2 separate regions of the Homo sapiens genome follow, and region 1 is linked to region 2. The links come from fine-mapping of genetic effects on gene expression. A gene starts in region 2. The other region holds a variant in brackets. All regions are shown on one strand. Distances are from middle to middle. Region 1 holds the start of FAH (fumarylacetoacetate hydrolase). Region 2 holds the start of ZFAND6 (zinc finger AN1-type containing 6).

The links. PIP is the estimated chance that this variant, and not a neighbour inherited with it, causes the effect.
Region 1: its variant is fine-mapped to the expression of ZFAND6 in prostate (GTEx, PIP 0.92).

The regions. Positions count from the first base shown.
Region 1 is chr15:80,141,126-80,157,362 of GRCh38, reverse strand. FAH (fumarylacetoacetate hydrolase) reads right to left here and starts at 4,364. Exons shown (of 14, transcript NM_000137.4): 1 at 4,228-4,364. The coding sequence starts at 4,308. RefSeq lists a silencer at 4,376-4,935. The variant G/C (reference allele first, on the strand shown) is at 7,409.
Region 2 is chr15:80,052,138-80,068,374 of GRCh38, reverse strand. It overlaps ZFAND6 (zinc finger AN1-type containing 6), which reads right to left and starts at 8,699. Exons shown (of 7, transcript NM_019006.4): 1 at 8,566-8,699. RefSeq lists an enhancer at 1,192-1,241 and silencers at 8,127-8,996, 8,693-9,021.

The sequences.
Region 1 (16,237 bases), 89 kb before region 2:
CTCTGTCCTGAGCCAGGCTTCCAGCTCTCCTGAACCACCAGCTTGGCCATTTCAGTGCCAGCGAGCTTAGTGGTGGGATTATTGGCTGGCCTTATCTCCATTGGCTGCTCACTGGGGTGGGCTGAGAAAAGATGACCATTTCTCCACGCATGTCAGCTCTTGGAATCGGGGTAGACCAGAGCCATACTCCTCATCTGAGGTCCCAGCAGAGCCTACCCTAGAAGAGGCTGCCTGGAGAGCTTAGTTACTCATTCTCAGCCCCACTGCCAACTCCCTGGGCCTCAGTCTTCCCCTCCTGAAAATGGCAAATCTGCTTTAGGCAAAGAGCTGAACCACCTGAATCCAAGTGGCTTTCCATTCAGGGAATGTGCAGGGCAGACCCTTGGACCACATCTCTGACCCTGGTCCCCACACCCCAGCTGAAGGCAAGAAGGAGTCACCACCAGTAAGCAACTTCCAAAATGGGGTCACAAGTGCAGCTGCCTGCTGCCTCAAATGCAAACAAAGCCTAGAAGCTTCAAACTTGTGCTTCAAACTATGACCTGAGGACCCAGAAAAAGTCTGAGAGAGTGAGTCCCTCTACTTTCAACCTTGGGAGTTATTTTCTTCAGCACAAAACTAGAGGGGGCTCACAGGTCAGATCCAGGATTCCTGGGCTCCAAGTCTGCTCCCTCATTCACCATCTTATCACCTTGGACAAGTCTCTGGGCCTCAGTTTCCCATCTGCAACTTGAGGGAAACAAACTAAGGAGGGAGACCGCATTTGTCTAACTTCAAGAGAATGAATGTGCATTGCCTTTGTTTTAAAATAGTTGGTCATATCTGATATAAAGTTGTCCAAAGGAAAGCATTACCCAACTCCCAGCCTGACATAGAGGGGGAAGCATGGGATTGGTGTGGGCGAAGGATTACCCAGGTGCCGAGGCAAGAGACTGAAGGCATAAACTGTAGCTATACTGCTATACAGTTGTAATACAAATTAGATATACAGATGATCATGGACAATTATCGATTATTAGTATAAACATTATTAATCATTAGTTTTTAATATTACTCTTTATTGTAGTACAATATAACCTAGGAATAACCGGTGGGTATAGGGTCAGGTACTGAAGGGACATTCTGAGAAGTGACCTAGAAGGCAAGAGGTGAGCCCTGTCACACCCGCATAAGGGCCGCTTGAGCGCTCCTTGGTCAAGCGGTAACGCCAGTGCCTGGGAAGGCACCCATTACTTAGCAGACCGCAAAAGGGAGTCTCCCTTTCCTTGGAGGAGTCAGGGAACACTCTGCTCCACCAGCTTCCTGTAGGAGGCTGGATATTATCCAGGCCTGCCCGCAGTCATCTGGAGGCCTAAACCCCTCCCTGTGGTGCTGTGCTTCAATGGTCACGCTCCTTGTCCACTTTCATGTTCCTCCTGTACTCCTGGTTCCTCTTTGAAGTTTGTAGTAGATAGCGGTAGAAGAAATAGCGAAAGTCTTAAAGTCTTTGATCTTTCTTATAAGTGCATAGAAGAAAATGCTGACTTATGCTGCCTTCCCTCTCTGCTTCGGCTACCTTAGAGGGAAGAGCCCCCGTCCCATGATCACATGACTTGCTTGACCTTATCAATCACTTGGATGACTCACCCTCCCTACCCTGCCCCCCTTGTCTTGTGTGCAATAAATATCAGTGTGCCCAGCCATTCGGGGCCACTACCGGTCTCTGTGTCTCAGTGGTAGCAGTGCCCCGGGCCCAGCTGTTCTCTCTTTATCTCTTTGTCTTGTGTCTTTATTTCTTACAATCTCTCGTTTCCGCACACAGGGAGAAAACCCGCTAAGCCCCGTAGGGCTGGACCTTACAGATTGGGAGGCTGACAGATGTGGGGATCAACCCCATATCTGCCTCTTACTGGCTGTGAGATCTGGAGCATGATGCTTTGCCTCTCTGGACCTCAGTTTCCTCATCTGTAGAATGGGGACAATAACTTCACAGTAGGTTTATTGTGAGAATTTAATTAATATCTGTAAATCTCTCACCACAAGAACAGACACAGGGTAGACGCTATTCATGCCACAAAGATTTAGAGAGCATCTTCTCAGTACCAGCATTACACAAAGGCTGCTGAGGCCCTGGGAACAGTGACGTGGTTCCTTCTCTCCAGAAGCAAAAGGAAACACAGGGTGTGGTGAGAGATAACCAAGGCTGGGCCGCAGCGGGGAGCTCATTCAGAGAGGGTGCTTAGGAGGTGACATTTAAGCTGAGTCCCAAAGAGTGAGAAGGGGCCAAGCATATAGAGAGCAGAAGGACGAGTATTCCAGGCAGAAGGAACAACATGTGCTAAGGCCTGAAGGCAGGAAGCTGCTCTTAGCACATCTCAGAGACTCAAAGGCAGCCAATGTGGCTGGAGAAAGCAGAGGCCAGGAGGCAGCAGCACAGCCAGACCACGGGGACTTTAACAAGGCACCCGGCAAAACCAGCTCCACACTACTACAACCCCGTTCTCAGAGGCCACCACCCCTACCTTCACAGAGAGCACCCCTGTACACCTTACTAGTCCATCAACCAGAAATGGAAGGAAGGCGTCTCCTGTGTCTTTGATGCCAACTCGGAGCCCAGGCAAAATCTGGACCAGAGTTGGGGTTCATAAGCATTCGCTGAATAAAAAAAAATGAATAAAGTGATGGCAGGATTCATTGTTATTCCACTCAAATTAGGAAAGGCTGACTGCTGACATGGGGGAAGGGAGGTTTTGCCTTGGCAACTAGTCTTGCCTGGCAAGGCAGCCATCACGGTTGGAATGTCCAATGCCTGCAGAGAAAGCTTCAGAAGAGGCTTGTTCAGCTGGAAGGCCAAAGGGCCAACTCTCCACCCCCAGCACTGTATCAGAGGACAGCGGAATGGGGCTCTCTCTTCCAGACATCTGTAGTGGCTGCCCTGCACATTCTGATGTTGAAACAGCGGGACATGGTGTCTGAAAACACCTAGCCACACTCTAACGGATATTAATTCGATTCCCCTGAGAAAGCAAGTCAGAGCTCCCTACTGGGGTGTGCCTGCCTCTCACAAATGTTTCTGTCTAATGGATTTGTGCTCCCAGGAAAGGTGAGGGAGGACACATCTGCCGAGGGCAAAGTGTTTGAGGAGGGCAGAGGGAGGGCTCTGTCTGCAGAAAGGTTGTTGGCCATCACAAGTTAAGATTTAATGTGCCTCAGATTGTGTCCTCCAGGGGATTGAGTGTCCACTTTCTGTATCCTTGCAACATCTGGTCAGCCCGGCCAGATGTGAAACCACAAGTTGACTCTTCTAGACCAAAGCACTTACCGCAGACAGGCCCACAAAAGGCCAGCCACTTGCATCCAATGACAAGCCATGGGGGAAGGAGGGAACCCCACTTTCCAAGAAGAAGCCAACTGCCAGGCCCCTCGTTTAGCAAACATTTCCTGATTCTGGGGTTCTATGGCTTACAGAGATGAATCAGGAGTTTACCTTTAAAGTTGGGAGCAGAAATCTAAGCCAAAAATATCATCAACAAATCCAAGGGAATCTGCTTTTCCAACCTAGGGAACCTCTTATTATCTATTTGCTGATAAACCCCCAGTTTTCAAATACTTCTTTCTACCAATCAGACTACACTGACTTAGTCAAAGTTTGTTTCCCTGCCCTCTTTCTTCTGATCAGTAGGGGAATGCCAGGGAGCCCACACCAGGAGCTGAAAGAATTTCAGCTATAGGCAGAGACACTTGCCATCTTAGATCTCACAACTCTAAGCCAAGAAACGCGCGTGCCCCTCTGACCTGCTACGCATACCGGGTTATCATTTCCCGGGTTCTAGGGTTAGGGGCTATCCAGCGAGATGAACCACCAGCCCTGACCTGGCCTCTTGGGCGAGAGAAACACACCGCAACCACCTCGGAGTAGGCAGCATGCCTGTGTGCTGCAGCTTCCGGTAACAGAATCCTGCTTGCTCTGCTTGTCTGGGAGAGTGACACGATTCATTTCATTTTGCATTTAATTCTCAGCAAACCTGCGGACAATGAGGCTGAAAAGTTAAACAACGTGCACAGCTAGAAAGTTACGAGGCGGGACTCGAGCCCATAGGCACTCTCACGGAACGAATCTTAAGAGAAAAATGGCACAAGCCTCCATCCCGCCCCTCATTCCACTCCATTCCACTCCACTCCACTCCACTCCACTCCACTCCACTCCACTCCCTCCCCGCGCCCGGACGCCAAAGCCCCACTGCTCACGTCGCCTCTGGTCGAGAAGACGCCGTAGGGCAGGTTGTGGATGGGGAAGTCGGAATCCTCGGCCACCGGGATGAAGGACATGCTGAAGAGCACCCGGCACGGCTGCGGGCCTAAGGTGGCGTGCGGAGAGCAGGACTGAACTCGGCCGCTGTGGTCAGGCCCGGCCCCGCCCCCCTGCCCGCCCCCACGGCCTGTCCGGGTGACACAGCAGGGACCCCGGAGGCTCCTACCTGACTTTTGGTCTCACCGTGAACACCCCGCCCCCGAACCCCGAGCCCTGCCCCTCCCCCCTACCCTGACCCCCGCCAGCTCCAGGTCCTCCACAGTCTCGCCCGCCCTTCCAGAGCCCCGCCCCGCCCCTGGCCCCGCCCCCGTGGGCCTCAGGTCCTCCAGTCTCTCCTCCCTCCCTGAGCCCCGCCCCTCCCCTTGCCCCGACCCCGCGAGCCCCAGGTCCTCCACAGTCTCACCCTCCCTCCCTGAGCCCCGCCCCTCCCCTCGCCCCGCCCCTCCCCTCGCCCCGCCTTGCAAGCCCCAGGTCATCCAGTCTCTCCCTCCCTCCCTGAGCCCCGCCCCTCCCCTGGCCCGGGTACCCGAGAGTCCCAGGCCCTCCAGTCTTGCCTCACTCCCCGAGCCCCGCCCCTCCCCTGGCCCCGCCCCCGTCCTGATCCCCGCCCTGTCCGCGAGTCCACGTGGGGGAGATCTGGTTCCAGCCCCCGCTCGGGGCAGCTAGCTGGTCCTACCGAGAGCAAACCCCAGCTTAGCATTTAAGGCTCTGCCCTGCATGACTCCAGCCTCGCTCGCCCCGGCTGCTGCCCTGCTCTTCAGCTCAACAGAACTCTTGTCCGCTTCCTGGAAACACTTTCTCCCCAAGAGCTGCTCCCTGAGCTTCAGAAGAACACCCAGTCGCGTCCTTTCTGCCTTCATACCATGATGCTCCGTCCAGCTATGACACTTCCACTTGTATGTCAGAGAAGGGGACAGTTAGGCCTGTTTGGAAGGCTTCAATTAATGAGAATTAATATTCTAAAAAATATAACTCACCTGTTTCACATGCCAGTAGTAAAATGACGTTGACAAGATGCTCAACCTTGGACAAGTTACTTAAACTTTCTCTACCTCAGCTTCCTTCTCTGTATAATGTTGATGATAATAGTTCCTACTTCACAAAGTTGATATAAGAATGGAATGAATTAATATTTGTGAAGCACCTAGAATAGTGCCTGGCATATACAGGTTATGTGTGTGTGGAAAGAGAGAGAAGGGAGGGAAAAAGAGGAAAGGAGGGGAGGGGGATAAAGGAAAGGAAAGATAAAAGAGAAATAGGAGAAGAGAGAGAGGGAGAAAGAAAAGAAGGAAGACAGGAAAGAAGGGAAAGGCAGACTATCTTAGGGTGGGTTCAAGGTGTTATCTAATCACTCATGTGCAGTCAGCTGCAGTTTTTTGAGACCATGCCACAGCCAGGACACTTGGAACACACCGGAGAGTGTGTCGTTGTGTTATTGTTGGTGTGAATGATTCAGGTACACTTTTAAACAGCCAGGATGCCGGCTGAAATCTAGAAAAGTAGACGATAGTCTGGGCAAGGGTTCCCTGAAGATCCTTGAGGAATGTGACACAGTGACTGCTGAGTTAGGGAGGCTGCTCCGCATTTCAGCTTAGGGAGAAGAGGCTGGAAGATGGCAGGATAATGTGAGCTAAGTGGGCTTGAAACCAGACGGCTTGAGAGGAGCGAGTACGGCAAGCAGGGCCCGCTGTTGAGCCCCCCTTCCTAGCCCCTGAGATCACTCTGGTGCCTGTCCACCAGGCGTGACCAGTGATCATCACCCAGTAAGGAGTGTAATCTGGGCACAGCCTCTTGGCTCTCATCTCCTGCCCTGAGTGGCTCTGCCAAGGACTGGCTTCAGTTCTTTTAAGTCAGCCCTGGGGAGGGAATGAAGGTGGTCTGATTTGTTCTGGTAGGTTCCTGAAAGAGGAAAAGAAGAGGAGAGTATCCCAACTTGGTGGCCTTATAAAGAGGCATTCCAGGGAGCACTTGATACCTGCCTAATTCAAGCTAGTCCTCAGCTGCAACGCAATGAATTATTTCCACGTTCTGTAGTTGCCCTGCCCCTTCCCATTAAAACCACGAGCTTTCTTATTCCATGTGCAACTCTGTCAATACCCAGCAAAACACCTGGCACAGAATAGGTTCTCCATAAATACATGTCATTAATATAAAACTGTTGACCAAAAGGAAATGAAGCAATAACTAATAAGCCCATGCCCTATGCCAGGCCATGGGGATACACCAGCAACTCACATCTTTAATTCCTGTTTTTATGGAGCATGTGTTGTGTGGGGGATGCTAGGCCAGGAGCTTCTACTGAATACATACAAGTTAACAAAAGCCTAAATGATAAAACCCTTGGAGAAAGAAAACCAAAGTATTTTAGGGAAAGGACATGGGGCAGATGTATGTGTAGGAAAGGGTGTGGGGATGAGATGGCTAAAGAGGGAGTAAGATTTCATAGTTTTAAAATAGACTTAACCAACCCACTAATTATACACAGTGTCTGAAAACGCCAAAGCTGTTCTCTATTTGGAAAACAGCATTTGAAATAACTTGCAAGTATACTATATTTTTTCTTTCTCATTTTTTGGAAGAGAATGTGTTGGCCACGTATATCACAACAATTATTTAAAAAGAATTTTAAAACAAAGAGATTGCCCATAATCCCACCAATGTAGTCTTCTCATTTTCATGTTTTTTTTTCATTCCATTTGTATGCACATGGCTTTTCCATCCTTATAAACTTTACATAGATGCAATTTTTCAGTCTTTCCCTACCTTATTCTCTTGAATATTTTTCCTTGAGGCCCAATAGGCTTTATTATGATCATTGTCATTAGCTAAGGAAGTCGCAATGTTTTAGATGGTAATAATAACGGTTCAATGAAGAGGTGCATGCACAGAATGTTTTCCTTTTCCTTGACAATTATCTAAGGAAGATTCCTGACTCAAAGAGTATGAACACTTTCAGGACTCGCAGTGAGTTTCAGCATCTCCAGCAATGAAGGCTGGTTTGGGTCTCTGTAGCACCATATTTAATGCCTCCCTCTGATGCTAAAAAGCAACACACTGCACTGCAGCCCTCATTCACACAAAGCATGTCCCTCACTCCTTTACAAGAGAGCTGAGAGA[G/C]AACTTTCCAGATCCAGGACACTAATGTCTTGCAACGGCTCTGAGAAGCTGGCAGTTGCCATTCAGATAAGCAAGGTGTGGACGCTGCCTGCACTGGGAAGCAGGATGGGGTGGCCTTTTTTGCAACATTCAGCACTGCTGCATGGTCGTCAAGAAAAAGAGGAAACTATGTCAAAGGCCAAGCACTTTAGCAAAGTAAGTGTCCTCTCTTTTTCAGGTCTGAGCTCAGTGATGTTTATGGTACACATTTTGTAGTGGGCATCATGGGTTTGGCATGTGTCCAGTACATTTTAGTATCAAGAATATATGTCATGTGCAAATATACATGACATTCTGTCCTCTCAAAGGAGTTCAAAATTTAGAGGATCTTGGAACTGAACGTAAGTAATTCAAGTGCAAGTGCATGTTGTAGGGTGGGGAGAAGGGGATTGGATGAAGTCCTAGGTGAACCAGCTCAACCAGGGCTAGGTTTTCTGCAATATAAATTTTCTTCTTCCTGCCCTCTTTAATTCTGTCTTTAGTCTGTTTCAGGTACTATTGTGTCTATGTTCTGATGGAATACTACCTCAAATCCATTTTGGATTTAAGCTGGATTTGCAAGACTCACAAATAACAAGCAGCACCTTAAATAAAGAACATGTCATTGCCATCTGACTTAATAATGTGTACCATATAATGAGTTCTCTGTTACCATTATCAAAGCAGGAGCCACTTTTTAGACTCTCCCTCACTGTTATTTCAACAAAATACTTCTAATTTTGTTTTGTTTTCTTATAACTAAATACATATTCAATAGTTTTCCCATCTGAATTATCCCTTTTTTCCCATCCAAATGTTCGGTGCCTTTTTGAGCTATAGCTGTGGATCCCACTCTGCTCCCAGAAATACAGAGGAATGTTGACACATAAGTTACAACCTCTGTATTCAACCTGTTTGGCACAGCTGAATAGATCATTCTCAGTGCCTCTCTCTGCAAACATTGTTTAGTTTGTCAACAATAAATCCACACTAAAATTTCCCTGTCTCTCTTTCGCTCTCTCTTTCTCTCTCTCTCTCTCTCTCTCTGTCACACACACACACACACACACACACACACACACACACACACTAAAGTTGGTTAGGCATGATTTTTCCTTGTGGCCCTTTCCCTAGATGTTGAACAAAAGGAAACAGTATGTGGTAACAGAATATATATGTCTGTTGTTGTTGTTGTTGGTTTGTTTTTTGTTATGTTTTGTTTTGTTTTGTTTTGTTTTGTTTTGAGACAAAGTCTCGCTCTGTTGCCCAGGCTGGAGTGCAGTAGCACGATCTCGGTTCACGGCAACCTCCACCTCCCAGGTTCAAGTGATTCTCCTGCCTCAGCCTCCCAACTAGCTGGGATTACAGGCTCACACCACCACACCTGGCTAATTTTTGTATTTTTGGTAGAGATGGGGTTTCACCATGTTGGTCAGGCTCGTCTTGAACTCCTGACCTCGTGATCTGCCCACCTCAGCCTCCCAAGTTGCTGGGATTACAGGCGTGAGCCCCTGCACCCAGCTGTAAGAATATATATGTTAAGGTTTCAAATAAGAAAGATTTGAAATCTCTTTCTAGAACGTTCATATTGAGTTTGGGTTTAGGTTACTGTACCTCACCAAATCTTAATTTCATGCATTGGAAAAATGAAATAATAAAAACGATACCTGCCTTGTAAGGTTGTTTAGAAGATCAAATAAGAAAACCCCTGCAAAAACTCTCAGCATATTGTGGGACACACAGAAAGTTCTCAATAAATGTCAGCAATCCTGTTTTCCTCTTCCTTACCTCCCCATCACTAATGTACATAAAAGTATAACATGCAACATGAGAAGTAGATTGACTCTGTCTAAGAACATCCTGTGTGAGAGCATTCTGTCCTGCCCTCCCTCCTCACCAGGATTCTGATTGTTGTTGTCAGATGTGTTCCACATCTCAGCGGCTGTCTGGGACAACACCTGGAGAATTCTTTTTTACTTTTTTAGCTGACAAATAAAAATTATACATATTTATCATGTAAAACATGTCATTCTGAAATAGGTACACATTGCACAATGGCTAAGTTGAGCTACTTAACATAAACATTACCTCACTTTTCATTTTTTTTGTCCTGAGAACATTTGAAATCTACTCTCTTGGCAATTTTCAAGAATATAATAAGGCCAGGCGTGGTGGCTCACGCCTGTAATCCCAGCACTTTGGGAGGCCAAGGCGGGTGGATCACAAAGTCAGGAGATCGAGACCATCCTTGCTAACACGGTGAAACCCCCTCTCTACTAAAAATACAAAGATTAGCTGGGTGTGGTGGCACGTGCCTGTAGTCCCAGCTACTCGGGAGGCTGAGGCAGGAGAATCACTTGAACCCGGGAGGTGGAGGTTGCAGTGAGCTGAGATTGCGCCACCGCACTCCAGCCTGGGCAACAGAGCAAGACTCAGTTGGACTAAAAAAAAAAAAAATACGGTTATTAATTATAGTCAGCATATTTTCCAATAGATCTCTTGAACTTATTCCTCCTATCTGAAATTTTGTGGGCTTTAACCAATATCTCCCCAACCTCCCAGCCCTTACCCCCTGGTAACCATCATTCTATTCTACTTCTGACTTCAACTTTTTCTGGGATTCCACATGTAAGTGAGATCATGCAGTATTTGTTGTTCTGCATCTGGCTTATTTCATTTAATATAATGTCTTCCAGCTTCATCCATGTTGTCATAAATGACAGGATTTCTTTTTATGGCTGAATAGTATTCCATTGTGTATACAAACCTTTTGTTTATCCATTCATCTGCTGATGGACACTCAGTTTGATTTCATATCTTGGCTATTGTGAATAATGCTACAATGAACATGGAGGTGCAGGTATCTCTATGACATACTGATTTCATATCCTTTGGATATATACTTAGCAGAGGGATTGCTGAATTATATGGTGGCGCTAGTTTTAATTTTTTGAGGAACCCCTATGTTGTCCATAATGGCGGTACTAATTTACATTCCCACCAACAAAGTACAAGGGTTCCCTGTTTTCCACAGCCTCTGCAATACTTGCTGTCTTTTGTTTTTTTGATAATAGCCATTCTAACAGGTGTGAGATGATATCTCATCGTGGTTTTATTTTGCATTTTTCTGATAATGATGTTGAGCATTTTTTCACATACCTGTTGGCCATTTTTATGTCTTTTGGGAAATGTCTATTCATATCCATTACTCATTTTTTAAGAATTAGGTTACTTGTTTTCTTGCTATTGAGTTGTTTGACTTCATTATTTATTTTAGATTCTAATTCCATATCAGATGTGTGGTTTGCAAATGTTTTCTCCCACTTCCTAGGTTTTTTCTTGTCGATTGTTTCCTTGGCTATACAGAAGCTTTTTAGCCTGATATAATCGCATCTGTCTGTATTTGCTTTTGTTGCCTGTGCTTTTGGGTTCATATCCAAAAAATCATTGCCCAGACCAATGACATGGAGCTTTTCCCATTTTCTTCTAGTTTTACAGTTTCATTTCTTAAGTTTACGTTTTTAATCCATTTTGAGTTGATTTTTATATATGGTGTGAGATAAGGGTCTAATTTCATTCTTCCACATGTGGATATCCAATTTTCCCAACATCATTTATTGAAGAGACTGTCCTTTCCCCATCACGTATTCTCAGCACTTTTGTGAAAAATCAACTGGCTGTAAATCTGTGGATTTATTCCTGGGCTCTCTATTCTGTTCAATATGTCTGTTATTATGCCAGCACCATGTTGTTTTGATTACTATAGCTATATAGTAGATTCATTTTGTTTTGTTTTGCTTTGCTTTAGAGACAGGGTTTTGCTCTGTTCTCTGGCTGGAATTCAGTGATATGATCACGGCTCACTGCAGCCTCAACCTCCCAGTGGCTCAAGTGATCCTCCCACCTTAGTCTTCTGCATAGCTGGGACTATAGGCATCTGCCACCATGCCTGGCCAATATTTAAAAAAAAAATGTAGAGATGGAGTCTAGCTATGTTGTGTAGGCTGGTCTCAAACTCCTGGGCTCAAGTGATCCTCCTGCCTCAGCCTCCCGAAGTGCTGGAATTACAGGCATGAGCCACCACATCTGGCTGCTTTGTAGTAGATGTTGAAGTCAGATAGTGTGATGCCTCCAGCTTTGTTCTTTTTGCTCAAGAGTGCTTTAGCTATTCAGCGTCTTTTGCAGTTCCATACATGTTTTAGGATTTGTTTGTTTGTTTCTGTGAAAAATATCGTTACAATTTTGACAGGGATTCCATTGAATTTGTAGATTGCTTTGGGTAGTATGGACATTTTAACAATATTAAGTCTTCCAATCTATGAACATGGGATATCTTTTATGTTGTTTTTTTTTTTTTTGAGACGGAGTTTCGCTCTTGTTGTCTGTCCAAGCTGGAGTGCAGTGGCGCGATCTTTGCTCACCGCAACCTCCACCTCCCAGGTTCAAGCGATTCTCCTGCCTCAGCCTCCAGAGTAGCTGGGATTACAGGCATGCGCCACCACGCCTGGCTAATTTTGTATTTTTAGTAGAGACAGGGTTTCTCCATGTTGGCAGGGTGGTTTCGAACTCCCAACTCAGGTGATCTGTCTGCCTCGGCCTCCCAAAGTGCTGGAATTACAGGCTTGAGCCACCGCGCCTGGCCATATCTTTTCATTTATTTCTGTTTTCTTCAATTTCTTTCATTGATGTTTTCTAGTTATCAGTGTACAGGTCCTTCACCTCCTTGGTTAAATTTATTCCCAAGTGTTTTGTTTGGTTGGGGGTTTTTTGGTAGCTATTGTAAATGAGATTGTTTTCTTAATTTCCAAAAATCCCTTCTGCTACTTCTATTCATCCCCTGGACCGCTGGCAGCCACTTATCTCTTTACTGTCTCTGTAGTCTTGACTTTTCCAGAATGTCATATAATTGGAATCATATAGTATGTAGCTTTTAAGATTGGGTTCTTTCACTTAGCGATATGCATTAAGATTCTTCTATGTCTTTTCCTGCCCTGAAAGTTCCTTTCTATTTTTGTTGAATACTGTTTCACTGTATAAATGTTCCACAGTTTGTTTGTTCACCTATTGAAGGACATCTTGGTTGCTCCCAATTTTTGGCAATTAAGGATAAAGCTGCTAAAATGTCAGTGTGCAAGTTTTTGTGTGGACACTTTTGCTTTTTAACCAAGTATACTTTATTAAATCATTAAAAAAAATTTTTAGAAATGGGGTCTCACTATGTTGCCCAGACCAAACTCAAACTCCTGGCCTCAAGTGACTCTCCTACCTCAGCCTCCTGAGTAGCTGAGGCTGCAGGCTTTTTTTTTTTTAATTGCTATCAGTGTATCTTCTTTGATATCTATTCAGATATTTTGCCCATTTTTAGGTTGGACTGTTTTCATACAATTAAGCTTTTAAGAGTTTTTTGTATATGTTAAATGAAAGCCCTTTATGTGTTTTGCTAATTTTTTCCAAGTCTGTGGCTTGTCTTTTAATTTTCTTAACAGCAGCTTCTGCAGAGCAGTTTTTAACTTTAACAGAGTCCAAGTCATCAATAATTTTTCTTTCCCAAGTTATGCTTTTAGTGTTTTACTTAGAAAAATCGAAACCAAACCTTGAATTTCTTATATTCTAAGTTTTACATTTTTGTGTTTTACATTTATGTCTATGATAAATTTTGAGTTAACTTTTGTGAAAGGTTCAAGGTGTCTAGATTGACTTTTTTTGCATGTAAATGTACAGCTGATCACTACTGCTTGAAAAAGTATTCCTATGAAAAAGACTTTCTCCATGAATTGTCTTCTCTTCTTTGTCAAAGATCAGTTGACTATATTTGTATTGGTTTATTTCTGGGCTCTCTGATATATTCTGCAAATACCAGTCTTTATTATGGGAGCTTTATAGTAGGTGTTTAAGTTGGGTAGCATCAGTCTTTGTTCTTCAGTATCGCATTGGCCATTTTGGGCCTTTGCCCCTCCACATAAACTTTAGAATTACTTTGTTGCTATCCACAAAATAACATGCTAGGATTTTGACTGAAATCACATTGAGCTTATAGACTAACGTGGGAAGAACTGACAATATTGAGTCTTCCTAGCACTGAAATGAAAGCTATTTATTGAAATGATCTTTGATTTCCTTGATTAGTTTTGTCATCTTCTTCACATAGATCTTGTCATATTTTATTAGATTTATACCTAAGCATTCCCTCTTGTTGGGGCTAATGTGAATGGTGTTTTTGTTTGTTTGTTTTTTGTTTTTTTGAGATGGAGTCTCATTCTGTCGCCAGGCTGGAGTGCAGTGGCATGATCTCGGCTCACTGCAACCTCCACCTCCTGGATTCAAGTGATTCTTTTGCCACAGCCTCCCAAGTAGCTGGGACTATAGGCACACATGCCACCACGCCCAGCTGATTTTTTGTATTTTTAGAAGAGACAGGGTTTCACCATCTTGGCCAGGATGGTCTTGATCTCTTGATCTCGTGATCCACCTGCCTCGGCCTCCCAAAGTGCAGGGATTACAGTCGTGAGCCACTGCACCTGGTGTGAATGGTGTTTTTAATTTTAAATTTAAATTTTTCATTGCTGGTATATAGCAAAGCAATTGGCTTTTGTATTATATATTCACCTTTTTTTTTGTATTAACCTTTTATCCTGCAATCTTACTATAACTGCTTATAAGTTTCAAGAGTCTTTACGTAGATTCTTTGATTTCATTCCAGATGTTAACATCTTTCATTGGTTACATTCTGTCTCCCATCTCCACATTCTGACTTTCTATTCTACTGGCCTTCTGAATTAATCTTGATGCTTATGTGTTAATAAAAAGAAGGGAAAATGGCCAGGAAGCCAGTCTCTGAAAAGACACCACAACAAAGTATCCTTTCCTAAATTCCCAATAATATCTGTTTAGATGTTGCTGGGAACAGGTCCCCCAAATCTGGCCATAAACAGGCCATGAGAAACTGGCCATAAACAAATCTCTACAGCACTGTGACATGCTTGTGATGGCTATGACACCCACGCTGGAGGTTGCTGGTTTACTGGAATGAGGGCAAGGAACACCTGGCCCACCCAGGGCAGAAAACCGCTCAAGGCGTACCTAAACCACAAACAATAGCATGAGCGATCTATGCCTTAAGGACATGTTCCAGCTGCGGATAACAAGCCAGAGCCTGTCCCTTTGTTTCCCATAAGGAAGGCTTTTAGCTAATCTATAATCTATAGAAATAATTCTCATCACTGGCTTGCTGTCAATAAATATGCAGGTCAAACTCTGTTTAGGGTTCTCAGCTCTGAAGGCTGTCAGCCCCCTGATTCCCACTCTGCACTCTGTGTCTTTGTCTTAATTCCTCTAGCGCCACTGGGTTAGGGTCTCCATGACCGAGCTGGTCTTGGTAAGATGTTCTGGAAACTATGAGAAAGGGGAAGTATAGCCATTGTTAGTTTAGTAAAAACTGTTTTCACATTAGAAAATACACGGCTTTTGAGTTGTGCTTGAAGTAAAGGAATGATTTCAAGACTGCACTGTGCAGTACAAGTTAGCATTGTAGGATAACTAGGGGAGAGGACACTTTGCACCAGACTTGAGCACAAACATCCCAGAAAAATTAGTATGGAAGACTGAAGTACGAGAAAACTCTTGATTAACAGTGTATTTAGGTGTAGTGAAACTGGAAGACTGTGAATGTTTGTTTTTTATGTGTGACAATTTTAAAAAGAAATACAAATTGAATGCTGAGGCTGATTCAACACCTTTCCTTGCATAACCTTCAAGTTCTAAAATGTGATCATCAAAACAGCTTTATAATTAACTTTCTGCTTTTGATACTTTGGACTTCCGGTACAGAATATTGGATTAATCATAATCCCTGGTTCAAGACACTCTCAGCATTGGTTCATACATGGCCTCTTTTAGTTTCCTAATATAAGCATCCTGACTCTACTAACCCCAAGAAAGCTGGAGCTTTGACCATATAGTACCACTTACTAGCGCATCCCTTGCCACCTCTCATCTAAGGGCATTGTTCTGAATTTTTTCATCATCATTATCCTGCTTTCTTTTCACATAAAATCTATTGGCTGGGCGCGGTGACTCACGCCTGTAATTCCAGCACTTTGGGAGACCGAGGAGGGCAGATCACCTGAGGTCGGGAGTTCGAGACCAGCCTGACCAACATGGTGAAACACCGTCTCTACTAAAAACACAAAATTAGCTGGGCGTGGTGGCAGATGCCTATAATCCCAGCTACTCGGGAGGCTGAGGCAGGAGAAATTGCTTGAACCCAGGAGGCGGAGGTTGCCGTGAGCTGAGATTGTGCCATTGCACTCCAGCCTGGGCAACAAGAGCAAAACTCCGTTTTACTAAAAAAAAAAAAAATCGGCCGGGCGCGGTGGCTCATGCCTGTAATCCCAGCACTTTGGGAGGCCGAGGCGGGCAGATCTCAAGGTCAGGAGATCCAGACCATCCTGGCTAACATGTTGAAACCCTGTCTCCACTAAAAATACGAAAAAAAAAAAAGTCTCCGGGCGTGGTGGCAGGCGCCTGTAGTCCCAGCTACTCCGGAGGCTGTGGCAGGAGAATGGCGTGAACCCGGGAGGCAGAGCTTGCAGTGAGCCGAGATCGCGCCACTGCACTCCAGCCTGGGCAACAGAACAAGGCTCCGTCTCGGGGGAGGGGGGGGAACCTATTACATGCGAATGTATTTTAAAGTGTTTATAGGTGAGCATGTTGCATATTTTGAGACTAGTTTTGCTTACTATACTGCACTTCTTCCTGTATTTCTAAAGCTTACTATACTGGAAGACTTTTTTGCATAATATGCTTCTATTT
Region 2 (16,237 bases):
GACCAGCCTGGGCAACACAGTGAAACCCCATCTCTACAAAAAATTTTAAAAATTTTTAAAAATTATACAGGCATGGTGGCGCGCCTGTAGTCCCAGCTACTTAGGAGGCTGAGGTGGGAGGATCCCTTGAGCCAGGGAGGTTGAGACTACAGTGAGCCAACATCACATCACTGCACTCCATCCTGGGCGACAAAGGCAACACCATGTCTCAAAAACAAACAAACAAACAAACAAAAAAAAAAAAAACAGGCCAGGCGCGGTGGTGCTCGCCTGTAGTCCCAGCTACTTGGGAAGCAGAGGCAGGAGAATCACTTGAACCCAGGAGGCAGAGGTTGCAGTGAGCCGAGATTGTGCCACTGCACTCCAGCCTGGGCAACAGAGTAAGATTCCGTCTCAAGAAAAAAAAATTTTTTTAATTAAGAAATAAAATTAACAGTAATAGTATATTTTAACACAATACATGTAAAATATCACTACTTCAATATGTAATATTTTAAAAATTGAGATATTTTCATTGTTTGGTACTAGAAATCAAGTTCCTATTTCAAACTTAATACATCAGTTCAGACTTGCCATATCTCAATAGTCAGATGTGACTATTTAAATAAAATATGGTAGCCATTAGCCACAGGACTATAAATTAAGATAAGTATCTATTATTGCAGAAGACTGTCTCTCTGCTGTCCAACACAATCGCCACTAGCCACATAAGGCCACTGAGTGAGCACCTAGAATGTGACTAATACAAATGAGGAACTGAATTTTTAATATTAAATTAAATTTAAATTTATTTAAATAGCCACAAGTGGATGGTAGCTACCAGACTATGGTTCTGGAAGAAGAAATAGATGCTAAAACAATTCACACAAACTTAATGAACTGGAGTTGTTACAAATGTTTATGAAAGAAAAGCCCAATATAAAATGAGCCCATGAAGCCAAGAGAAAGACCTAACCTATTTTGTGGCATCAAGGAAGGATTCCTCAAGGAAATCACAACTAAGCAAAACAAAAGCATATGCAAAGGTCTTGAGTAGAGAAAACTGAAAACAGTAGAAATAATGAAGAAAAGTAACAAGAGGTAAAATAATATATGCTATTTGTAGGAGACTGATTTGGATTACAAAATCAAAACTCCATAGGAAGGCAGGAGGGGTGGAAGCAGCCCTACCATTTGGAAATAAAAAATAAAAGTCTCCCAAACAAGTCCTGAAACAAAGCTTGTCCCACTGTCCTCCCTCAGTAAACACCAGTCATTCTAATCTTCTGTCAAATTCAAAGTCAAGTCAAGCACTTTGCATATGTACCATTTGTGCCAGCAGTTCTCTTCACATGGGAAACTACCTTCAACTTCTTGATTTTAGAACTCAGAATCAAAGTTCCAAATTTTCTACACAGGACAAGCTTTGGAGCAGCAATCCAGCTGGAAGATGGGGAAGAGGCTTCAAACTGTTTGCAATTTTTTTTTTTTTTTTTTGGGAGATGGAGTCTCACTGTGTCGCCCAGGCTAGAGTGTAGTGGTGCAGTCTCGGCTCACTGCAACCTCCGCCTCTAAGTTTCAAGTGATTCTCCTGCCTCAGCCTCCCGAGTAGCTGGGATTACAGCTACCGGCCACCACGCCCAGCTAATTTTGGTATTTTCAACAGAGATGAGGTTTCGCCACGTTGGCCAGGCTGGTCTTGAACTCTTGACATCAAGTGATCTCAGCCAGGCCTGCAAAGCAATTTTCACAAAATATTTTCCCAAAAAAACTTAGTCATTTCGGCTGGGCGTGGTGGCTCACGCCTGTAATCCCAGCACTTTGGGAGGCTGAGGCGGGTGGATCACCTGAGGTCAGGAATTTGTGACCAGCCTGGCCACCGTGGTGAAACCCCATCTCTACTAAAAATACAAAAATTAGCTGGGCATGGTGGCGCATGCCTGTAATCTCAGCTACTCAGGAGGCTGAGGCAGGAGAATTGCTTGAACCCAGGAGGCAGAGGTTGCAGCGAGCCAAGACCACACCACTGCACTCCAGCCTGGGCAACAGAGTGAGACTCCGTTTTTTTTTTTTTTTATGTTTCGATAGATTGGGAAAGCTAAAGAAACTCCCATACACACCTTGGTACCACCAATCAACTTAAACATGACATCCTCAGAGAGACAGTCTCAGATCATCCAATTAGCACCTTCTATTATTTATTTACTTCCTAGACACTTGTCGAAATCTGAAAATTCTTTATTCGTTGGTTTGTCTATATTGACAGACTGTAACTGGATGAAGGCAAGAGACCTTGTCTTGTACATAGTTGTGTCCTCAGCACTTGGCAGAATGTCTAGATGGAGCAGGTGCTTAAATACTTGTTGAAAAAATAAAAACTGCAACTGCAGGGGTTTTTAAATATATAAACATAAAAATATTACTCATCAAAATTTAAGTAATATAGCTAAAGCTATGCTCAGAGGAACATTCAATAGGATTACATTTTTTCATTATAAAACATAAAATATTATAAAAGTTGCAATTTTTTTAAGTTAAAAAATTCAAAACTGGCCAGGCACAGTGGGTCACGCCTGTAATCCCAGCACTTTGGGAGGCCGAGGTGGGTAGATCACCTGAGGTCAGGGGTTCGAGACCAGCTTGGCCAACACGATGAAACCCTATCTCTACTAAAAACACAAAAATTAGCCAGGTGTGGTGGCACACCCCTGTAATCCCAACTACTCAGAAGGCTGAGGCATGAGAATCACTTGAACCTGGAGACAAAGGCTGCAGTGAGCCAAGATCATGCCATCACACTCCAGCCTGGGCAACAGAGTAAGACTCTGTCTCCAAAAAAAAAAAAAAAAAAAAAAAAATCAAAACCAAAACTAATTTGAAGCCCCAAAAGAATAAACTAAAAAATCTGAGGACTAACAAAGCAACAACCAAAAAAGGGGGATGGGGGGGAGACTTAAACAATAACAGAAACACACTTGTTTACAAAATGAAAATACCATGCCCCATGTATACAAGTGTACACTGGTACCAAATCATTGATATTTCAATAAAACCTAAAAAGAACCAAGAAGATGTGCATTTAACATATGATAAAGGCAGCTTTATTTCAAGGCAACAAGTTGTTTTTTTTTTTAGTGGGGCCAAAATTTTTAAGGAAAAATAAGGGAGGTTATTTCACTTCACATATGTCAAAATAAATCCCAGATGAACAGAAAAAGACAGATGTGAAATATGAAACCGTAAAAGAACTAGAAGAAAACTTAACTGGGTAGGAGAAGCCTTTAAATATAAAAGCAAAGTAGAAGCCATAAAAGAAAGTATTAACCTAATTTTCTTAAAAAGTAAAAACCCTTGCCTGTTTTTTTGTTTTGTTAAAAAAAAAAAAAAAAAAAAGGGGGAGAGAGAGAGAGCAAGAGAAAAGACAACACTGTTAGGTAAATGAAGAGCCAGGAAAAATATTTGCATGCCAGGCCCAGTGGCTCATACCTGTAATCCCAGCACTTAGGGAGGCCAAGGCAGGTAAATTGCTTGAGCCCAGGAGTTTGAAACCATTCTGGGCAACATGGTAAAACCCCATCTCCACAAAAAATTGCCAGGCATGGTGGGGAACGCCTGTAATCCCAGTTACACAGGAGGCTGAGGCGGGATAATCACTTCAGCCCAGGAAGTAGAGGCCTCAGTGAACCATGACTGCACCACTGCCCTCTATCCTGGGTGATAGAGCAAGACCGTGTCTCAAAAAACATTTTAAAAAACCCAAACATACGTGTGTGTGTGTGTGTGTGTGTATGTATACATGTGTATATATATTTGTGTGTATATGTATATTTGCAGTATATAGCAGAGTTGCTATCCTAAATCCTAAAAATATAAAAAGTTTAAAAGGGTATCACAAATATAAAACACCAGCCAAAATGGGCAAAAGATAAACTAGAAGATGTCCAATATCCAGGTTTATTTACCATCATAATTAATTAAAGAAATATATGATGATTCCTATAGAAAGGGAAGGAAAGATGGAGGGTAGATGGATAGACAGATAATGCTGGTAAAGATATACAAGAAATGTGTATTCTGTCATATTTTTAGTCAAATTTGATATTAAAGTTTGATGTTAGTCAAACTTTTAAGGACAAAATTTGGCAATATTTATGAAAAGACTTTAAGAAATGTTCATATGCTTTGATTCAGTGATTGTAAGACAGACTAGATCCGAAAGAAACAATGACAAATACATAGTAGTAGCTCTTATATTTATCACACTACTTATAATAATAAGAAAAAAATAATAAACTTAAGTTACACCCAACAGATAACTAGGTTATAGTACTTTTATAAGATGGAACTGTCCATGTGGGTAACCACTAGTCATATGTGGCTACCGAGCACTTGAAATGTGGCCAGTCTGGGTCAGACATGGTGGCTCACGCCTGTAATCCCAGCACTTTGGGAGGCCAAGGCAGGCAGATCATTTGAGGCCAGGAGTTCAAGACCAGCCTGGCCAACATGGTGAAACGCGGTCTCTACTAAAAACATAAAAATTTAGGCCGGGTGCAGTGGCTCACACCTGTAACCCTAGCATTTTGGGAGGCCTAGGCAGGTGGATCACCTGAGGTCAGGAGTTTGAGACCAGGCTGGCCAACATGCTGAAACCCCCTCTCTACTAAAAATACAAAAATTAGCTGGGTGTAGTGGCATGCACCTGTAGTCCCAGCTACTGGGGAGAGGCTGAGGCAGGAGAATCGCTTGAACCCAGGTTGCTGTGAGCCGAGATTGTGCCACTGCACTCTAGCCTGTATAACAGAGTAAGATTCCGTCTCAAAAAAAAAAAAAAAAATTAGCTGGGCGTGGTGGTGCATGTCTGTAGTCTCAGCTACTCGGGAGGCTGAGGAACAAGAATCACTTCAACCTAGGAGACAGAGGTTGCGGTGAGCTGAGATCGCACCGTTGCACTCCAGCCTGGGAGACAGAGCAAGACTCTGTCTCAAAAAAAATACAAAAAAAGAAATGTAGCTAGTCTGAATTGAGATGTACTTTAAGTGGAAAATACACACCAAATTATAAAGACAGTCTAAAAAAAGACAACTATCCCATCAACAATTTCTTATACTGATTACATGTTGAAATAATAGTTTTTGGGTTACATAAAACGTATTTTCACCAGTTTCTCTTTTTTTCATAATGTGGCTACCAGAAAATTTTAAATTACTTAATGTAGCTCCCATTTGTGACTAACGTTGTATTTCTAGTGGACTTTGCTGGTCTGAGGTATATAAGCCACAGTAAGAGGTTTCAATTTTATTTGGTATATTGAAAAGCTACTGGGAGGTTTTGAGTCAGAGAGTAAGATACTGTAATTTACAAATTTACACATTTAAATGAAGCAGAAGAGTAGAAAAGTTGAAGCAATGGTAACAGATGACTTCTATTATCATCTTATATGAAATAAGATGGTGAGGCAGATTACATTTCGGTAAGTTCTTAAGAAAGAGCCAGGCTGAGAGTGTTTAGAATGGACTCTTAATAGTTTAGGATATTAAGAATACACACATAAAGACCAGGGGTATACCTGACAAAATGTTAATAATAGTTATCTATCATGGTGTTATAGGTGGCTTTTCTTAGTAACTTTCTATTCTTTCTCAAGTTTGAGGGGGAAAACCCCATATACACATTGTCCTTATAATTAAATAAAAAATAAGGTTTTTAAAAGCAGAATACAGCCCTACCAAAACAAAGCATCCTGATATTTGTCTGCAAGCTACATATAGAAAAAATGAAACCATCTCTACTCCCATGCCTTCAAACAAAAAGGTTATTCAAAATTACATGTAAATTCACACTTACATACATGAATGAAACATGAAACACATAAAAACACACCTATCTTCAGGATAGTAAGGAGATACTATTCCCTAATTTGTCGCTGTGTTCCTGTTAGCATAATGAAACAGATCCTCGGGAAACACACCTTGTGGGCATTCTCTAATCTAAAACATATTTAAATATGGAGTTAACAAATCCTGAACCACCACACAACTTTTCCAAAAATGTTCCAAAGGATACAAAATTTAATTCCACAGAATAACACCTTGGTCCTAATGCTTTCCCTTAAAGGGTGTGACATTTGACAGGTGTTTTCCTTAATTAAAGTCTGTGCAAAAGTGGAAGGATAAGCTTAGGACAAGTTTCTTTTACATGAGTATGCTAAGGCACAAGAGAAATTTTTAAGTAATTTGCTAGAGATTAGAGGGGAGGAGAGGAACAGCAGAAAGGATAATTTATTTTACATACAATCCAGCGTTTTTTCTACTATACTATTTTTGCATTGAAAAGGAGATACCAAACAGTGCCAGACTTTTTACAATGTGACTTCAAAGTAAGAGAGTCATTACACATAGGTTAACAGGAATTTTGGGTTTTCATGCAAATGTTCAACTAGGTTGAACTAGTTCAATCACTACGGCTATGAATCTTCTATTTAAACATAATAGAGAATCCTAATGTTTTTCATTCATCTTATTTCTAAGTAATTCAATCTATTCTAGTCCTGATTACCTAATACCGTCTAATGCAATCCACATTAAGTATTTACTCTAGAGAAATTCTTGTACTTGTGTACCAAGAGCCGGAAACAAGAAATGTTCACAGAGCAAGACTGCTTATAACAAAACAAAATAAAAAACAATAAAAACACGGTCGAAGTGCCCATAAGTTATGGCAGATTAACATATCATAAAGCAATGAAATAAACTACAGCCACATACTATTTTTATAAAGCTCAAAAGAAAAACAAATTAAATGCCACACAGTTTCGGCATACAAACATATATGATAAAACTATTTTTCAAAAAGTCAAGGAAGTGACATACACAAAATCCACTGCACAGATAAGAAACTCATAGACAAATGCAAGTTTTAGTAATGTTCCAGTTTTGGGTTTGGGGGGAGTCATCAAGGATTTATGATGTTTTTATCTGCTTATACTTTACCGTGTTTTTTTTTGGTAGTATTAAATATATTTTGGTTACTTCTTAAAAACGTTACTGACATATAGTTGACAATAAACTGCACATATTTGAAGTGTAAAACGTGTAAGTTCTGACATATGCATACACCCAAAAAGTTATCACTACAAGATAATAAATCCACCGACCCCTGTATTTTCTCCTGCACATTTGTGATGTCTCCCTTTAAACACATTTTAAAACGTAAAAAAGTAAAAATAAAAAAGACAACTTGTTTTGGAAAGCTAAACGTGCATATTTTGCAAAACATTTCCCCTAGGGCTCTGGAGAAACTATACACAACTCAGAAAGTGCCTTAAAATTGGTGACATGGTTACCGAACAACTAACCTTAAAAGTTTATGGTATTTTACACTTTTAAAAAATCAAATTCCGATTTCGGTTTGAAAGAGGAATTTAATCCTGTTTCTCGGAGCTTCAAAATCATTAATTCTGCCCGGCTTTTTTTTGAGACGGAGTCTCCCTCTGTCGCCAGGCTGGAGTGCAGTAGCGCGATCTTGGTTCACTGCAACCTCCGCCTCCCGGGTTCAAGCGATGCTCCTGCCTCAGCCTCCCAGTAGCTGGGACTACCGGCGCCCGCCACCACACCCAGCTAATTTTTGTATTTTTAGTAAAGACAGGGTTTCACCATGTTGGCCAGGATGGTCTCGATCTCCTGACCTCGTGATTAGTCCGCGTCGGCCTCCCAAAGTGCTGGGATTACAGGCGTTGAGTCACCGCGCGTGGCCAATTCTGCCCAGTTTTTATGGCCCAACAACTTAATATAAATTATCTTTAGGTAACCCCAAGGTCCTAACTTCCTCACAACTGGTTACAACTTCCGAGATGTGAAGGTAAATCATAGCGTCCCAACTGTGTAGGATAGTTAGCACGTGACTTAAAAACCAAGTTAAAAAGATTTCAAACACAATATTCTTTCATACTTTTTTAGGTAGCTAAAACTTAAATATAACTATTTCAAAAAAGCAGACAAAAAATTTAGAATCCTAAGCAAGCTAAACCCAAGCAGGAAAAAAAGAGACCAATTCCCTTCCCGGTGCCAGTCAGGAGTTGGAGACACCGGGCTGCCTCCGGCTGGTTTCTGAAAAACGCCGCAGGTGGAAAAACATCCCGAAGAGGACCTGAGACTCGGAGGAGGCGGGGAACTGACGCGCCCCAGTGTGCCCGGGGCCCTTCCGACCCCCGCCAGCCAACCGCTCGCAACCCGCTCGGGGCGGCGCGCGTCGCGGCCTCCGCGGCCCTGAAGAACTGAGGCTCCCGACCCCAGCGCGACCACCCTGACAGGAAGCGGCCCCCGGCCGCGGGCGCCCGCGCGCCGTCTGAGGTGAACCCGCCGATCTCCGGCCCCCACCCCCGGAGCCGGGAGTCCTCGCCCTCTCGCCCGCGGCCCCCGCGGGCCCACCACCTGCTGCGCCGGCCGGCCGCCCTCCGCTTCCGGCTCTCGGGCGCCGGGAGGGGCCGGGGGCGGGCCTCGCCTAGCTGCAGCCGGGTGGGGGAAGGGAGCAGGCGGGGGAGGGGCAGCGCCGGGCAAGCCGGGCCCCGCGGGCCGCGCTCCTCACCTGGCGGCGGGTCTCTCCGCCTGACACGCTGCGCGCCGCCGCCGGTAGCCGCCGGTGAATGGGTACAGGTAATGCCGCCGAACCCCTGCTTGCTCCGGCTCCGCCACCGCCGGCCCCTCCGTCCGCTGTTTATTAAACTTTTCTGTTTGGTTGTTCGGCCTATGACGCGACCGCGGAGGAGAGCCACTGGATTGGCCGGCTCCCGCGGCTGACGCGCGGGCCCCGCCCGCCCGCTAATTATTACCGGCGCGGGCGGGGCCGCAGGCCGGAGGAGGCGGGGAGAGGCGGGGTCAAGGCTCGGAGCGCACGGCAATTGGCCGGAGGCAGGAAAAGAGGCGGGGCGGAGCGAAAGGAGATGCTCCTCCGCCTTCTGCACCTCCAGTGTCCCTTGCTCCACTGCCCTCTCTGGGGCGCTTCCCGCCGCGGTTTCTCTACCTCCAATAGCTACGGGAAGGCGATTAAGAGGTGCCGCGGAGACTTTAAGGGCTTGGTTATGTAGGTTCAGGTACCTTTGCCACCTCGCAGGGAATGGCGTGTCCCTGTCTTGGACTGAGGCACCAAAAAGAGTTGCACTCCACCTGCCACTTGTGCAGGAAGGAATTCTGAGCTTCTGTCTTCCCATGCAGGCCGGCGCCTCAGTCTGCAAGCGCAAAGTCCGAGCTCAGGGCGCATACTGGAAAGCAGTTCTCTGCCCTGTCCTGAACTGGGACTTGGAAATAGAAGCAAGACGAGAAGCGTGCATGCACACGTGTGCAATACATACATGCACAGGCACAAGCACCCCCAGTTCCAGCCTGTTCCAAAAGCACGGGGTCAGTTCCCACCTGCGTGGTGCACGCTGGGCTGCTGCGCTGGAACTAGGGGTGATAGGCAGAATGGCTCCCCCTGAAGTTTTTCAGCCTTCGTTCGGGCTCACGAGCATCACGAGCAGGAAGTACGTGACACTTTAGTTCGAGGTCATTCAATCCTATTGTGAATGAGGAGTTCCGTTAGGGCATCCAGGTAGGCGAGCCCAGTCCTGAGAATCCTCTTTATTTTAAATGTTGGTATTTTGTTATTCATGGATTTTTTTTTTGCATTAATTTTAATTTTAAAAAATAAAAATGTTATTCATCTTGATCACTTAGTTTTTTGGTGCTCCCTTAAATGTTGTGCCTGAAGTGAGTACCTGTTGAGCATTTAGCAACACAGAAGTCACCTTGGGGAGTACAGTTTAAGTGGAGGACAAAAGCCTGATTGGAATGGTAATAAAACCTACTTGTTAGGCTATTTGTGGGGGTTAAATAACATAATATGTGTGAAAGAGCTTCTTGAACTAGCAAGGTTATGCGTCAAGTCTTACGGATTTTGTCTTAAATGTATTTTTCTTCCGATTCTTGTCCAGTTTATCGTTGTATTAACTCCAGCACCTAACCCAGTTGGATTTTCATATGCAGTTATTATGAATTTGCAGAAATTGGGTTTACATGACCTTTACTGCTTTCCTTTGTTCCAGATTCGTTCTGGGAGATTGAGAGATTATAGTATTGCATTGTGACGTGGAATGCAGACAGACCACTGTCACTTACTAGCTTTGTGCTCTTAAGAAAATTGTGTGAAATGGGAACGAAAACCTACCACAAAGGATTGTTATGAGGGTTAAAAGATACTGCATTTCTATTCACCCAGTAAATGCTATATGCCGACTCTCTGCCAGCCTGTGCTGTAGGTGCTGGAGACAGCATTAAGAAAGATGAAGGCCCTTCTCTCATTGACTTACACAGGGGAAGAGAGGGAGCAGAAACAATAAACAGTATACATACGCAACCTACCGGTCAGTGTACATAAACAACATATTCACAGCACCTGGTATGTAACAGATGCTCAATAAATGATTGTGTATGCATTATTATTTCCAGCCCCATCTTCTTTCCTGTGTTCCAGAGCAGGACATTCACTGTGTGCTTATCACAGCCATTCAATATGTCCAAGGCTTATTTTCCCCCAAACACATTCTTCCTCCTGTAGTCCCAATTTTGGCTAATGGTGACACCATGTTTCCAGTTATTAAAGCTAGAAACTCAAGCTTTATTGAGATTTAACACACATATCATTACAACTTACCCATTTTTAAAGAATACAATTTGCTGGGCGCGGTGACACATGCCGGTGGTCCCAGCTACTCAGGAGGGTGAGCTGGGAGAATTGCTCGAGTCCAGGAGTTCTGGGCAGTAGTGCACTGTACCCACTGGTGTCCACAGAGGGTGGGGGGCACCATCAAGTTGCCTAAGAAAGAGGACTCTGCCCAGGTCCAAAACAGAGCAGGTCAAAACTCCTGTGCTGATTAGTAATGGGATCATGGCCATTGCACTCCAGCCTGGGCAACATAGCAAGACTCTGTCTCCTATTAAAGAAAAAACAAAAAGAAAAATGAAAGAAATTATACAATTCAGTGGTTTTTAGTATATTCACAGTGGTGCAGTTATCACCACAAATCAGTTTCAGAACATTTTGTCACCCTATAAAGAAACCTTGGCAGGGTGCAGTGGCTCATGCCTGTAAATACCAGGGTTTTGGGAGGCCGAGGCAGGTGGATCACTTGAGGTCAGGTGTTAGAGAACAGACTGGTCAACACAGTGAAACCCTGTCTCTACTAAAAATACAAAAATTAGCCAGCCTTGGTGGTGCACACCTGTAGTCCCGGCTGCTTGGGAGGCTGAGGCAGGAGAATCACTTGAACCCGGCAGGCGGAGGTGGCAATGAGCCGAGATCACGCCACTGCACTCCAGCCTGGGTGACAGAGCAAGACTCCATCTCAAAAAAAAACAAAAAACAAAAAAACAACCTTGTACCTATTAGCAGTCACATTCCCCTTTCCCCCAATCCATGGCCCACCTCCACCCCTAGGCAACCATTAAGCTACTGTGTGTCCCTTAAGTTTTGCAAGTGATCCTTTGGCCTCAGCCTCCTGAGTAGCTGGGTCTATGGGTGCAAACTACCATGCCTGGCTAGTTTTGCCTGTTTTGGACATTTCATAAATATGTAGTCATATAATATGTGGTCTTTTGAGACTGGCTACTTTCACTTAGCATAAGGTTTTCAAAGTTCATCGTGTTGTAGTATGTATCAGCACTTTATTTCCTTTTATTGCTGAATATTTCACTGTATTAATATTTAATATAACACATTTATTCATTAATTTATAGACATTTGGGTTGTTGTCCACTTTTTGCCCATTATGTGAATAGTGCTCCTGTTCACATTTTTATCCAAGTTCTTATAGGGACTTTTTTTTTTAACAGATGAGGTCTCACTCTGTCACCCTGGTGAGGGTGTGGTAGCATGAACATAGCTCACTGACACCTCAACTACTGGACTCAAACCATCCTCCCACCTCAGCCTCCCAAGTAGCTGGGACTACGGGTATGCACCACCATGCCCAGCTAATTTTTTTTATTTTTTGTAGAGATGGGGTTTCACTATGTTGCCCAGGCTGGTCTCAAACTCCTGGGCTTAAGCAGTCCTCCCAGCTTGGCCTCTCAAAGTGCTGAGATTACAGGTGTACCACGCCCAGCCTGTTTTTATTTGTCTTGGGTATCTACCTAGGAGTAGGTAGACACTGCGTCATATGGTAACTCTGTTTAGCCATTTGAGGAACTGCCAGACTGTTTTCCATAGAGACTACACCATTTTACATAACCACCAGCAATGAGTGAGAGTTTCAGTTTCTCCACATCTTTGCCAACATTTGTTATAATCAGTCTTCTTGATTATAACTACCCTAGTGAGTATGAAGTGGTGTATCACTGTGGTTTTGCTTTGCATTGCCCTAATGGCTAATGATGTTGAGCATCTTTTCATGTGTTTATTGGCCATTTGGGTATCTTCTTTGAAGTAATGTCTATTCAGATCTTTGCCCATTTTTTAATTGGGTTGTTTGTCTTTTTATTGTTGGTCATAAGAGTTCTTACATGTTCTAGATACAAGTCCCTTTTCAGATATGTAACTTGCAAATATTTTCTCCCATTTTGCATATTGTCTTTTCACTTGCTTGATGATATCATTTGAAGTATAAAAGTTCTTTAATTTTTGCTCTTTTTTTTCTTTTTTTTTTTTGTGATGGAGTCTCTCTCTGTCGCCAAGCTGGAGTGCAGTGGTGCAATCTTGGCTCACTGCAACCTCCGCCTCCCAGGTTCAAGTGATTCTCCTGCCTCAGCCTCCTGAGTAGCTGGGACTACAGGCGCCTGCCACCACACTCAGCTAATTTTTGTATTTTTAGTAGAGACGGGGCTTCACCATGTTGGCCAGGCTGGTCTCAATCTCTTGACCTCATGATCCGCTCGTCTCGGCCGCCCGAAGTGCTGGGATTACAGGCGTGAGCCACCGCACCTGGCCTCATTTTTTTTTCCTTAAGCCCTCCTCTCCCCAATATCCAATTCGTCATGAATTTCACTGATTCTGCCTTAGAAATATCTTTGGAATGCACCCCCACCACCACTGCCCTATACAACTCCCTTGTTATTTCTCACCTGAATTTAAGTAATAGCCTCCAATTCTATTCTCTTTTCTACATCCCCCCACATCCTACCCGATTTATCTTCCAACCGCTTCCAGAAGGATCTTCCTGAAACACAAAATGAGCAGGTCAGACCTCTTTTGGTTCCTCGTCTCTGCTGTAGCAGTTCTCACATTCCTCTGATAAGAATACCTTGAGCATTTAAAAAATTCACATTGCAGGTCATAATCTGGACACAATAAATAAGAATCTCTAGGGGAGGAGTCTGGAAATCTAGTTTTAATAACCCCCCAGGTGATTCTTATTCTCAGAATGGTTTGGCCTAGGACAATGGTTCTAAAGGAGGGGGTGGGATTTTGTCCCCCACAGGACATTTGGCAATGTCTGCAGACATTTTTGGTTGTCACAACTGGGTGGAGCTGTCACTGTCATCTAGTGGCAGCAGGAATGCTGCTAAGCATCCTGTAATGCACAGGGCAGCCCCCCTCAACAAAGAATTACCAGCCTCGGCCAGGCGCGGTGGCTTAATGCCTGTAATCCCAGCACTTTGGGAGGCCGAGGCGGGCGGGCAGATCGTGAGGTCAGGAGATTGAGACCATCCTGGCTAACACGGTGAAACCCATCTCTACTAAAAATACAAAAAAAAAAAAAAAAAAAAAAAAAATTAGCCGGGCGTGGTGGTGGGCGCCTGTAGTCCCAGCTACTCGGGAGGCTGAGGCAGGAGAATGGCGTGAACCCGGGAGGCGGAGCTTGCAGTGAGCCGAGATCGCACCACTGCACTCCAGCCTGGGCGAGAGAGTGAGACTCCGTCTCAAAACAAACAAAAAAAGAATTATCAGCCTCAAATGTCAATCATGTCATGTTGAGAAACCCTGGTCCAGGAGATAAAATACATACTTCTGCATTTGAGGCCAGGCAGTTAGTCCCCAACTCTATCAAGTGTCTGTTGCTCCGTAAGAAACACCCCAAACCTAGTGGCTTAAAACAACAATTTATTATCTCTCTTGATTCTGTGGGTGGACTGGGCAATCCTGCTGCTAGTGTTGCCTGGACTCTCTCATGGAGAAGCTGTAGGTGACAGATGAGCTGTGATGGCTGTTTAGCTGGGGCCTCTCTTCCCTCATAGTCTTTCAGAGCACAGCACTTTCAGGAATACAGGAGCATGAGCCTGGTCTTCCTTGGAAGTCGTATGATGACACTTCTGCTATATTGTATGAAAGAATGATATAAGACTGACCTAGATTCAAGGGGTAGGGAGATAAATTCTATCTTTTGAAACAGGGAGCTTGCAAAGAATTGATGGTTTTAATCCACTTTTCCAATTTACCTTTTCAAAACTATCTCCAAGGGCACACCCACTTCTAACATAACCCCAGGGAAGGATAGGACCAAAACAGAATTTGAAGCTCTGGTTAATGGGGAAGGAGCTACTTTTAGAAAAACTTCTCATGGACTTGACTTCTGTTAATAGTGTTTCCTCTAATAGCTTTTCATCAGAGTCTAAATCAAAGTTCTCAAACTTTTGGTTTCGCAGGCCCTCCTTAATGTTTGGCTCAGCACAAGACTGCTTGATTGAGTCTCCTATTTTCCTCTACATTTTTTTTTTTTACACGAAGTCTTGCTCTGTTGCCCAGGCTGGAGTGCAGTGGCGCGACCTCGGCTCACTGCAACCTCCGCCTCCAGGGTTCAAGCGATTCTCCTGCCTCAGCCTCCCAAGTAGCCGGGACTACAGGCATGTACCACCACGCCCGGCTAATTTTTTGTATTTTTAGTAGAGACAGGGTTTCACCGTGTTAGCCAGGATGGTGTCAATCTCTAGACCTCGTGATCCGCCTACCTCAGCCTCCCAAAGTGCTGAGATGACAGGCATAAGCCACCGCACCGGGCCTCTACATTTTATCGGTTACAATATCACACATCAGGTAGCCTCTAGAAAACTCCACTGTACACTCATGACAAAGAGAAATAATGACCTAACATTACAATGAAAATAATTTTGACCTTGCAGACCCTCTAAAAGGATCTCAAGGGCCTCCAGAGGTTCATGGATCACACTTTGAGGACTGCTGGTCTAAACTACCATCAGGTTGACACGGTGTCTTAAAATTGTTGAAAGAGTACTACACTTGTAGTAGGCGTTCAGGCAAGCAGCTCCCTCAACTCATGGACATGCTTCTGCCCACCTCCTTCTATTCATTACATTCAGGATGCTGGGCCTTTTTATGACCTCATCCTTGTACGGGTATTCTCTCTTATCCCTATCAAACTCCCACTCATCCCTCAAAACCCAGTATAAATGCCTGCTCATTGGTCAAGGCTGTCTTGATTCCTCTAGCCATAATTAGGACGCCCCTCTTCTGTGTTTCACACACTTTATTCTTCCTTCTGCAATAGTAGTTCCCTTGTTAAACTGAAATTTGTCAGTCCAGCCTAGGCAACATAGCAAGATATCCTCTCTACTAAAAGTTAAAAAAAAAATTAGCCAGGCGTGGCAGCACATGCCTTACTCAGGAAGCTGAGTTAGAAAGATCACTTGACCTCAGGAGTTTAGGTTACAGCGAGCTGTGATTGTGCCTCTATACTCCAGCCTGGGTAATAGAGCAAGACTCTGTCTCAAAAAAAAAAAAAGAAAGAAAAGGAAAAGAAAGAATGAGATTTGTTTGCCTCTTCCCTAGTTAGACTAGAAACTTGTTTTTCTGAAGTTTGATTAAAAAAAAAATTGGTATATTATAAGCATGTAAATTGTTCCATTTCCAAGTCTCTAACCAATTGTTCTTTTGCTTTTGTTTTATTTTGAGACAAAGCCTCTCTCTGTGACCCAGGCTTGAGTGCAGTGGTGCAGTTTCGGCTCACCACAACCTTGGCCTCCTGTGTTCAAGCAATTCTCGTGCCTCAGTCTCCCAAGTAGCTGGGACTACAGGCACGTGCTACCACGCCCAGCTAATTTTTATATTTTTAGTAGAGACAGGGTTTCGCCATGTTGGCAAGGCTGGTCTTGATCTCTTTACCTCATGATGCACCCATCTCGGCCTCCCAAAGTGCTGGGATTACAGGCCACTGCACCCGGCCATCTCTAATCAATTGTTCTAACAAATATATCAACTCTCCTTTTCCCCATGGTTTTGTGTGAGGCCTTCTTTAGCATATGTCAACTTTTTATACATAATAAATTCTAGA